Linked DNA regions of Homo sapiens: region 1 is linked to region 2. The links come from fine-mapping of genetic effects on gene expression. A gene starts in region 2. The other region holds a variant in brackets. All regions are shown on one strand. Distances are from middle to middle.

Region 1 (5,387 bases), 110 kb before region 2:
ATGTTTTTTCCCCTTCTTTATCCAATTGAGCCCAAGTTTGCAAAAGAAAAGAACAGATAAAAATATCAAAATTGTTCATGGGGTAGTTTTTGGTAATTTTGTCACTTTGTGTGACTGGACCTTCTTAACAGGCTTATGATAGGTATCAATCAGGATTGAGCACTGAATTCCAAGCTCCACTGGCATTTCAGTCTGACGTGGATAAAGAAGAAGATAAGAAAGAGGTATGTAATGATACTGCTTTTGGATCCCAATATTTCTACTATGATAGTATTAATATATGAGAAATTGGAAACAATTTGTTGTGTCCTAACACATAAAAGAGCTAATACCACAAATTTCATAAATCAAATAAAAGTTGCTTGACTCATTATAATGTGTTGAATTTATTTTCCAAGCTCCTATGAGTTAGGGTACATTGATGTGAAATCAATTATTTGATACTAATAAATTTCTCCAGCTAATGTATATTTGCCACTATAACTTATTTAAAGGAAGATAATTACTTTATGGCTTTCTTTTTTTTTTCTCTTTTCAATCTAAAGTTAGTTTAAACCGATAGTTCTTAACCCTGGCCATGCACCAGAATCAGATGGGGAGCTTTTTTCAAAATACAAATATGCCTAGATCTAAACCAGATATACCAAATCAGTATCTGAAAACGGAGGTTTAGGGCATTTTTGTTTTTTAAAAATACCACTGGTGATTCTGATGCATCCTCAGTATTAAGAGCTACTATTTAGAACTTCAGTAATTTTTACCAAAAAGCCCTGCACTACTTTGGTATATACATAGACATGCTTTTTGCTCATCGAATAGCTTGTGTATTTAAAAGAGTATATATAAATCCAGAGGAATGAACAGATCACACACAGTCTAGTAGCACTTGCTTTTATTCTACTTGTTTCATTTATGAGTCTGAGGCTTTAGTATACCTCAGCCCTTCTACCCTCCTCCGTGCCATGTTAGGCTAGGCTTAGAGTATGCTTTTGTGATACTGTTTTAATTTTGAAAAGTTAAAGTAACTATTGGTTCTGTTATGAAATATCTTCTACATTCTTTCTGTGGCTCTGCTTTTATGGTACTTACTACTTGGGAACACAGAGTAAATATTTCAGAGTAACAGAGTAAATACTTTCTCTGGTTTGCCTATTAACATATAATAGCCATGTGCTTGAAAATATAAAATTCTTGTGTATGTGACATCCTGAGTGACCATAGACAGAAGGAAATTAAAGACTTAATCATGTAACTTCTATATCATCTGTTTCTGTTTGCTTGCATTTGTTTTTGTCTATGGTATAAGAATATTTTTCTTCCTTGGAAATTCCTCTGAAAGCAGAATCTTAGTAATTTTAACTTCTTACCTTTAGCGTCAAAAGCAGTACCTGAGACATAGACGACTTTTCATGGATATTGAGAGAGAACAAGTTAAAGAACAACAAAGGCAAAAAGAACAAAAGAAGAAAATTGAAAAGTAAGTTATTCGATCTGCTCTGTGAGCCTTAAATTGCCAATTAAGATGTTTTTGGAAGATGAACTTTAGAAAAAGGTAATGGTTTTGCCCTCTGATCCATATTGAAAACAGCTATTTTTGATCTGGGTGAAGTATTGGAAGATGGTGAACAGCTATGGTTTGGTTTTTTGGTTCGATTTTCTATTAGACTTGATTTTTTTAGGGCAATTTTAGGCTCACAGCAAAATTGAGCAGAAAGTACAGAGAGTATACCCTCTGCCCCACAAATGCGTAGCCTCTCCTACTGTCACTATCCTGCACCATAGTGGTACAATGTATTAGAATTGATGAACCTACATTGACACATTATTATTACCCAAAGTCCATAGTTTACATTAGGGTTCACCTTTGGTGTTAGGCATTCTATGGGTTTTGACAAATACATAATGTCATGTGTCTACCATTATGGTATTATACAAAGTGCTTTCACTTCCCTAAAATCCTCTGTGCTCTGCCTATTCCTCCCTCTTTACACCCTATCCTGTGGTAACCACTGAACTCTCTACTGTCTCCATGGTTTTGCCTTTTCCAGAACGTCATATAGTTGGAATCATACAGTATGTATGCAACCTTTTTAGATTGGCTTTTTATACTTAGAAATATGCATGTACGTTTCCTCTAATGCTTTTTTATGGCTTGATAGCTCATTTATTTTTAGCACTGAATAATATCCCATTATCTGAATGTATCACAGTTTAGTTATTCATTCACCTACTGAAGAACATATTATTTGCTGCCAATATTTAGCAATTATGAATAAAGCTACTTTAAAATCTATGTACAAGTTTTTGTGGGGGCATACATTTTTAGCTTATTTGAGTAAATAACAAGGCATATGATTGCTGGATCATGTGGTAAAAATATATTTAGCTTTATAAGACACTACCAAATGGTCTTCCAAAGTGGCTATACCATTTTGCATTCCCACCAGCAAGGAGTGAGGGTTCCTGTTGCTTGACATCCTTGCCAACATTTGGTGGTGTCAGTATTTTGGATTTTGGCCATTCTAGTAGGTGTGTAGTAGTATCTCATTGTTTTAATTTTCACTTCCCTAATGACATATAATATGGAGCACCTTTTCACATGCTTATTTGTCATCTGTGTATCTTCTTTGGTGATGTGTCTGTTCATTTTGCTTCTTCTTGTTGAATTTTAAGAGTTCTTTGTATATTTTGAATAACAGTTCTTTATCAGTCTTTTGTAAACATTTTTTCCCCAGTCTGTAGCATGTCTTCTCATCTGTTGACAGTATCTTTTGCAGAGCAAAATGAAGTCTGCCTAATCAGTTCTTTCTTTCATGGATTGTGCCTTTGGTGTTATATATAAAAAAAAGTCACTGCCATACCCAAAGTCACTTAGATTTTCTCCTGTGTTACCTTCTAGGAGTTTTGTAGTTTTGCATTTTACATTTTTCTCTATGATCCACTTTGTTAATTTTTGTGAGAGGTGTAAGATCTGTGTTTAGAGTCATTTTTTTTTTGCATGTGGATGTCCAGTTGTTCCAGCACCATTTGTTGAAAAGACCATCTTTTATTAATCATATTGCCTTTGCTCTTTTGTTAAAAATCAGTTGACTGCATTTATGTGGTTCTGTTTTTTGGACTTGGTTCTCTGTTCTGTTCCATTGATCTATTTGTCTATTCTTTTGCCATACCACACTGTTTTGATTATTGTAGCTTTACTTACATATTTTTATTGATACATAATAATTGTACATATTTATGGGATACATGTAATATTTTGATAACATGCA[A/G]TGTATATGATCAAATGTATGATGTGTAATGATCAAATCAGAGTAATTTGGATACCTGTCATCTCAAACATTATGATTTCTTTGGATTGGGAACATTTCAAATCTTCTAGCTGTTTTGAAATATACAATAAATTATTGTTAACTAGAGTCACCCTACTGTGCTACCAATAAGTAGAATTTATTCTATCTGTCTAACTGTATGTTTATACCCATTAACCCATTCTTCATCCTCTCCTCCCTTCCCACCCTCTGGTTAACTATCATTCTACTTTCTACCTCTATGGGATCAGCTTTTTTAGCTCCCACATGTGAGTGAGAACATGCGATGTTTGTCTTTCTGTGCCTGGCTTATTTGATTTAACATAATGACTTCCAGTTCCATCTGTGTTGCAGCAAATGACAGGATTTCATTCTTTTTATGGCCGAATAGTATTCCACTGTGTGTATATACCACATTTTCTTTGTGTCCCTCTGTTGAAGACACTTAGGTTGATTCAATATCTTGACAATTGTGAATGGTGCCACAGTAAACATGGGGATACAGGTATACCTTTGATACACTGATTTCTTTTCCTTTGAATAAATACCCAATAGTGGAGTTGCTGGATCATCTGGAAGTTCTGTTTTTAGGTTTTTTTTTTAGAAATCTCCATACCGTTTTCCATAATTTCTGTATTAATTTACATTCCCACCAACAGTGTATAAGAGTTCCCTTTTCTCTACATCCTCACCAGCTTTTGTTACTTTTTGTTGTTTTGATAATTGCCATTTTAACTGTGGTGAGATGATATCTCATTGTGGGTAAGTTCAGTTGATCCCCAGGCACCCGGATGACAAGCATGAGTGCCTGAAGTGGCGGCAGTGGGTGAGGCAGGCCTGTCCTCAGGTCGTTTGGTTCTATACCTGGGTGCTGGCAACAGTGGGTGTGGCATGTAGCTTTATAATAAGTCTTGAAGTCGGGTAATTTCAGTCTTTCAACTTTGTTTTTCTTTTTTAATGTTGTGTTGGCTTTACCTCTCTACATAAACTTTAAATAAGTTTGTCAATATCCACGAAATAACTTGTTGAGATTTTTACTGAGATTGCAGTTAATGTATATATCAAGTTGGGGAGAACTGACATCTTGACAATATTGAGTCTTTCTATCCATGACCATAGATGATCTCTCCATTTTATTTAGTTGTCCTTTGATTTCTTTCTTCAGTGTTTTGTTGTTTTTGCTCATATAGATCTTATATATTTTTTGTTAGACTTATACCTAAATCTTTCATTTTGGAAATACATATAAATGGTATTGTGCATTTAATTTTAAACTCCACCCGTTCATTGCTGGTATATCGGAAAGTGATTGACTTTTGTATATTAAACTTGTATCCTTCAACCCTGCTGTAATCACTTAGTTCCAGTAGCTTGTTCAGTGACATTTTTGTTATTATATGATCATGTCACCAGTGAACAAAGTTAGTTTTATTTCTTCTTTCCCAGTCTGTATGCCTTTTATTTCCTTTCGTTGCCTTATTTCATTAGCAAGGACTTTCAGTATGATGTTAATGAGAGGGTACATCTTTGGCTTGTTTCTTATCCTAGCAGGTAAACTTACAGTTTCTTACCATCAAGTATGATGTTAGCTGTACATTTTTTGTAGATGCGCTTTTTCAGGTTGAAGAAGTTCTTCTCCATCAGTTGCATTTCTTTTTCTTTTTTTTTGATACAGAGTCTCGCTCCGTTGCTAGGCTGGAGTGCAGTGGCGTGATCTCGGCTCACTGCAACCTCCGCCTCCCTGGTTCAAGAGATTCTCCTGCCTCAGCCTCTTGAGTAGCTGGGACTACAGGCTATGGGTTTTTACTGTGCCCCTTAGAGCTCAACCCCAGTTGTCTTGACAAACTTCATTGTGCCTACTAACTTCTAAACAATGCATAAAAAGTTATAATGAGCTGGGCGCGGTGGCTCACGCCTGTAATCCTAGCACTTTGGGAGGCTGAGGCGGGCAGATCACCTGAGGTCAGGAGTTCGAGACCAGCCTGACCAACGTGGAGTAACCCCGTCTCTACTAAAAATACAAAACTAGCTGGGCATGGTGGCTCATGCTTGTAATCCTTGTAATCCCAGCTACTCGGG
Region 2 (5,387 bases):
TTTGTTTACAATAGCAAAACATCAGGAAAAAACCTAAATGTCCATCAATCAGGGAACAGATACAATATTATATATTCATAATGAATACTTAAAATGAATGAAATTGATCTATATGTATTGATGTGAATATATCTCAAAAACAATGTTGAGTGACAAAAACAAGTTGCAAAATGGAACCCACAGTATGATACTACTTGTATTTTTAAAATTAAATACAATCTAAACAGTAATATATATTGTTTCTGACGAACGTATATACAGCAAAAGTATAAAAACATGGGCATAAACAATACATGACAATTTCAAAAGACTATTTGCCTCTGCAGAGGGAGGAAGGAAAGGGAATGGGGTTAGGAGTGGAAATAAAAGGGATCTGAACTAAATCTGTGATGTTTTATTTCTTTAAAATAAAAAACTTGAGCTGGTGTGCCAAAATGTTAATATTTATTAATCTGATTGGTGGAACATAGATATTATACTACCCAATGTACTATTTTCTGTTTTTAAATTTTTCGTGATAATTTTTAATTTTTAAAAAGGTAATGGGCAGCAGGATGCATATGAATTGGGTGACCAGTTAGGAAACTATTGCAATTCTCCAGATAAGAGATGATGAGGGTCTGACCTCCAGTCTTAGCTGTGTCAAGGGAGAAGGTGTTAGAAATGACACAAGTTTCTAGCTTAGTTGACTGAGCTGATGGTACTGCTCTTAAGAAAACAACTATTTAAATTTAATTTGTGCTATTCTGGATATTACACAAATAACCCAGAAGACTTGGACCAACTCTAACAGTTAGAATAGAGGGCAAATGGTAGTTGAAGCTGGCTGGCGCCATTAGAAATGTTGCCCTTCAATCCCCCTTAGTAGCTTAAGAGTTCGTGAGACATTGGATTTATATATGGTATGGCTTTAAAGTAATAAGATAAATATTCCCAAGCTCTTTTAAGAATGGAGCTCATAATTTTATAAGCAAACTATACATTTTCTTACTAAGCATAGAAAAGAAGGGCTGGGTATAGTATAGAGTGCTGCTATAGAGGAAGAGAGAACATCTAGTCATTTTTATCTTATTTAAATGTGAGAATAATATCTGTGATAATTTCCCATATTAGAATAGCTAAATTATTGTTATTGAGTACAATACAATAAAATATAAAAACGGGTTCATGCCATCATTAAACCTTCTTTGAGAAGTGATGGCTTGGCCAACCCGATTTCAAGGGTAAGTCCATTTACTTAATATCTGTGGCATTTAAAGCAGGTAGACTGGAGTGAAAAAAAATAATTTAAATTTGAACAGTTCAGCAGCTGACAACAAAAGCAACTACAGGGCTAATGTTTTCCTTCTGTGCTCAATGCTGTGAGGTTTTTCTCTGAGAGAGTTTGTTCAAAACCTTTTAGATGTGTGTGTTCATTTAATGGTTGTTTCTACATACCCTTTCATCCAGCTGTCAGAGAAAATAGGAATAAATGGACTGATCCCTGCACAGGTAACCTAATGGATTAAAAATACGGTACTCATCACCAGGTTGATCATCATGAGCGAGAATACTAACTGCCATTATAAGATGACTTATAAGATGACTTACTATCTAAGACAAATGTGGATTCCTCAGAGGGTAATGTGGCCTAAGTGCTGCTGCTGGAGGGAGATATCTCACCCATCCCCCGATTTTCACACTGACTCAAGCCCTTGAAAGCAACAGAAAACAGTGGGTTACAAGGAGTGAAGTGCTCCTCTGGAAGAGTCCTTTTCACTTTGCTTTATAGCTGTTTTCCAAACCTTCAAAAATAACGGGGGGGGGGGGTTACTTTCACACTTTTATGTTTCTACTTTAAACACTTCACTATCTTTTGAATTTTAAAATATTAGAATAACGCCTCTACCTTTGTAATTAGATAAAATGCAAGCCTGGGGAAAAAATCAGTTGCCAAGCTCCCAAAATGCCACCGATGTAGCATCTGCTCTTAACACGTTGATAGAAAAAGGAGGATCAGTAAACCTAGGTCTCTTCCTTGCATCCCTCTCCTGGACGGTGTTGTGGGTTGGAAGCGCTGCAGAGCCTCGGTCTATCCGCTCTCTGGATCTCACAGCACTGCAGCCTGGGAACACCCCACTTGAACTCTAAGCTTCTCCCCAACCCTGTTGCAGATTCAAACTGGCGACAGGAAAACAATGCCCCCCATGTCTCGTCTTCAGAATGTGCACCTGGCCACCTCCCAGGAGCTAGAGAGGGATTAAGGTCTCGGTCATAAGAGATCTGAATCAGGCACTGACACTTCCTTTTCTTAAGAGCATGAAACAAAACAGTCCTTCCTTCTCTGCCTCCAATTAAGTATTTATTAGCCGGGCCTTGGGTCCAGATCAGCGGTAAGGGTGGTCTGCGAGGTCCGTGCACCGCCGTCCGCCCACGCCTTCTTCCAACCACCTCAGCCCGACCCTCCACTTTTCTCCCTTCCCCGCAGCCGCCCCGCTTTCCTCACCTCTGCCCCCTTCACCTGGATCCACTCTCCCCCAGGCTCTACTCACACCTCAGATTCCGGCGCGTTCCAGCCCACGGGGCTCTGGTTTACTTAGGGCGAATCACAAGTGGGCTTTCATTTAGGTGATTTAAGATTCACTAATCAGCGTTGCTCTTTCAACGGCCAACTTCTTCCTCATTAGCTTACGCCTAGCGCGGCTCCCGGCAACGCCGAGCGCGGTGGGTTGGCTCGTCACCCTTCGTTACGCCCTCCGATTGGTCGGTGCCTGTCAGCCTTTGGACCGACCTCAGTTCGGTTGGGTAGCAGCGGTCCGAGCTGCACTCCCCGCCCCCCCGCCACTCCACTGTCAATCACACCATCTCTCCGTAACTCATTGGGCCATTGGTCAGTCTAGCCTGAGGGCGGGTTGTTGGGCGGAAGAGAGAGACTTCTTCCGGCCTCACTCGCTGTCACCATAGAGATTGCCCATCCAGGCAGCGAAGCAGCAGGGCCAGGCAGCTCAGATCTCGAACTCCAGAGAACTGCACAGTCATCTAGACATCAATGCCTTTTCCGGGGCCTGATGAACATCTCAATCCCCAACCCACTAGCTCGAGTGGGGCGCAAGATGTGGTGGACAAGTCAGCTCAGGCCCGGTCATTAAGTGTCCCCAACAACCCTCCTGGAGGGAACTGAGGACGAAGCACCAGTTGTAATAACGGCACGCTTCATTTATCTTTATCTCGACTTGTTTTATTTGGTATTTAATTCTTCCATTAGCCTTGCGAAACAGACAAAGGCAAAGATCATTCTACCCACGGGACAGACTGGGGAAGAGGCCCAGGGTCCATCAAGTAAACCCTCTGCCGCCAGGCTGCTGGAACTGGAGCTGGCCCACGCTATTGGCAGACTGCTGTTACCTAACTGCCAACTAAAGCTTGCCATGACTTTGCTTTGAGGCTATGGCCTGTTAGACCAAAAGATGCATCAATCAGGACAACCAAAGGAAGTAGGACAGAGGCTGCGTGCTCCACCACTGAATCAAGAAGGGGAAACAAACAATAATCAATACCAAATTGGAGAGCTGCACCGTTTGAACCTTTGACCTTAAACAAAATTTTAAGAAATATCATGAAGCAACCTATTCAATCTTAGAGCACTGAATCTCTGATTTAAGGAATTCTCCTGAATCACAGCTTTATGAACCAAAAAGAAGAAGATGCTTGAATTTCATCAACTGCACGTCTCAAATTTATTCAACTTTCGAGGCTTCATTTACAATCACATAAAGTAACCAATGATTTGTTGTGCGTTTAGCAACTTAACATTACTTGGCCCAGTGAGAAGCTCTGTGGCTAAGAAATCCTTTATTTTGATGAATTCATTTCACTGGAACTGAGTGTTGACTGCAGCTATGTTCTGTTAGGAACTGCGAAGATATACAAGAAATGAGATGTGACTCCCATCTTAATAGCCCGTGGTTTTGTAATGTTAGGTCAACAACACATGAAACAAGTAGGAAACACTTTAAAGCAAGATATAACAATGGGCCAACCCTATTGTACAATTAATTTCTCCAAAATATAATAATACTTCATATTTGCAGAACATTTCGTAGTTTCCAGAGCACTTCTTCCCTTGTATTATTTGGGGGATATTTTGTTATGGCTGGAATTAATGTGTGTGTCTTTATCATAGAGCTAGAACTAATGCTGGGTCCTAGCATATGAGTAGGAACAGGAAAGGTGGAACAGAATCCAGGAGGAGAAAGTAGTTTGAGCAAAGAGGCCAAGGCAAGAATGAGCACTGAGTATCTGGAGAATAATATGGAGACAAATGATGGAAAGTAATGTGTAGACAAGCTGGTCAGAACTGGCTCTGAGACCTTAATATTTTGGAGGAAAGTGGTCAAAAGTTCAAAGTTTGAGATTGGAAAAGTTAACTTCCTTACACTTCTAATGATCATACTGGCTTCAGTTAAGCTATAAATTAAAAATGGGCATGGCTCAACAGAACTTGAGTCCTGTCCTCTCGCTTTTCTCCTTAGGCAGCATGAGCTTCACCATTTGCTTTACCACCTCCACCAACTACCAGTCCCTGCATTCCATCCAGCCACACAGCCACAGCGTCCAGTTCATCAGCAGCACAGCCAAAGTCTATGCAGTCCTCAGGGGCTTGGGCTCCCGGACCTCAGTGTCCTTCTCCACCAGCTTCTGGAGTGGCTGGGGGTCTGGAGGCCTGGCTGCAGGGATGCCAGGGGTCTGGAAGGAATGGGGTACATCCAGAATGAGAAGGATACCATGCAAGGCCTGAATGATTGCCTGGATTTCCTACCTGGACAGAGTGAGGACTCTGGTGACCAAGAGTCAGAGGCTGGTGAGCAAAATCTGAGAGCACTTGGAGAAGAAGAGACCCCAGGTCAGAGCCTGGGGGCATTACTTCATGACCATCAAGGACTTGAGGGCTCATATCTTTGCAAATTCTGTGGACAATGCTTGTGTTGTTCTACAGATTGACAATGCCCGTCTTGCTGCTGATGACTTTAGAGTCAAGTATAAGACGGAGCTGGTCATGTGCCTGTCTGTGGAGAGCAACGTCCGTGGGCTCCACAAGGTCACTGATGACACCAATGTCACTCGGCTACAGCTGGAGACAGAGATGGAGGCTCTCAAGGAGGAGCTGCTCTTCATGAAGAAGAACCAAGAGAAGGAAGTAAAAGGTCTACAAGCCCTGATTGCCAGCTCTGAGTTGACCATGGAGGTAAATGCCCCCAAATCTCAGGACCTCAGCAACATCATGGCAGACCTCCCGGCCCAGTATGATGAGCTGGCCCAGAAGAACTGAGAAGAGCTGGACAAGTACTGGTCCCAGAAGACTGAGGAACACACCACAGTGGTCACCACGCAGTCCACCAAAATAGGAG

What was found. PIP is the estimated chance that this variant, and not a neighbour inherited with it, causes the effect.
Region 1: its variant is fine-mapped to the expression of TMEM218 in whole blood (TOPMed, PIP 0.96).

Annotation. Positions count from the first base shown.
Region 1 is chr11:125,003,736-125,009,122 of GRCh38, forward strand. It overlaps CCDC15 (coiled-coil domain containing 15), which reads left to right. Exons shown (of 16, transcript NM_025004.3): 12 at 132-224; 13 at 1,374-1,477. Among named protein-coding and RNA genes, the nearest start is that of CCDC15, 52 kb to the left of the region's middle. The variant A/G (reference allele first, on the strand shown) is at 3,270.
Region 2 is chr11:125,109,054-125,114,440 of GRCh38, forward strand. It overlaps TMEM218 (transmembrane protein 218), which reads right to left and starts at 2,573. Exons shown (of 5, transcript NM_001258244.2): 1 at 2,486-2,573. It also overlaps the pseudogene KRT18P59. RefSeq lists enhancers at 2,268-2,357, 2,713-3,625, 2,988-3,167 and a silencer at 2,828-2,897.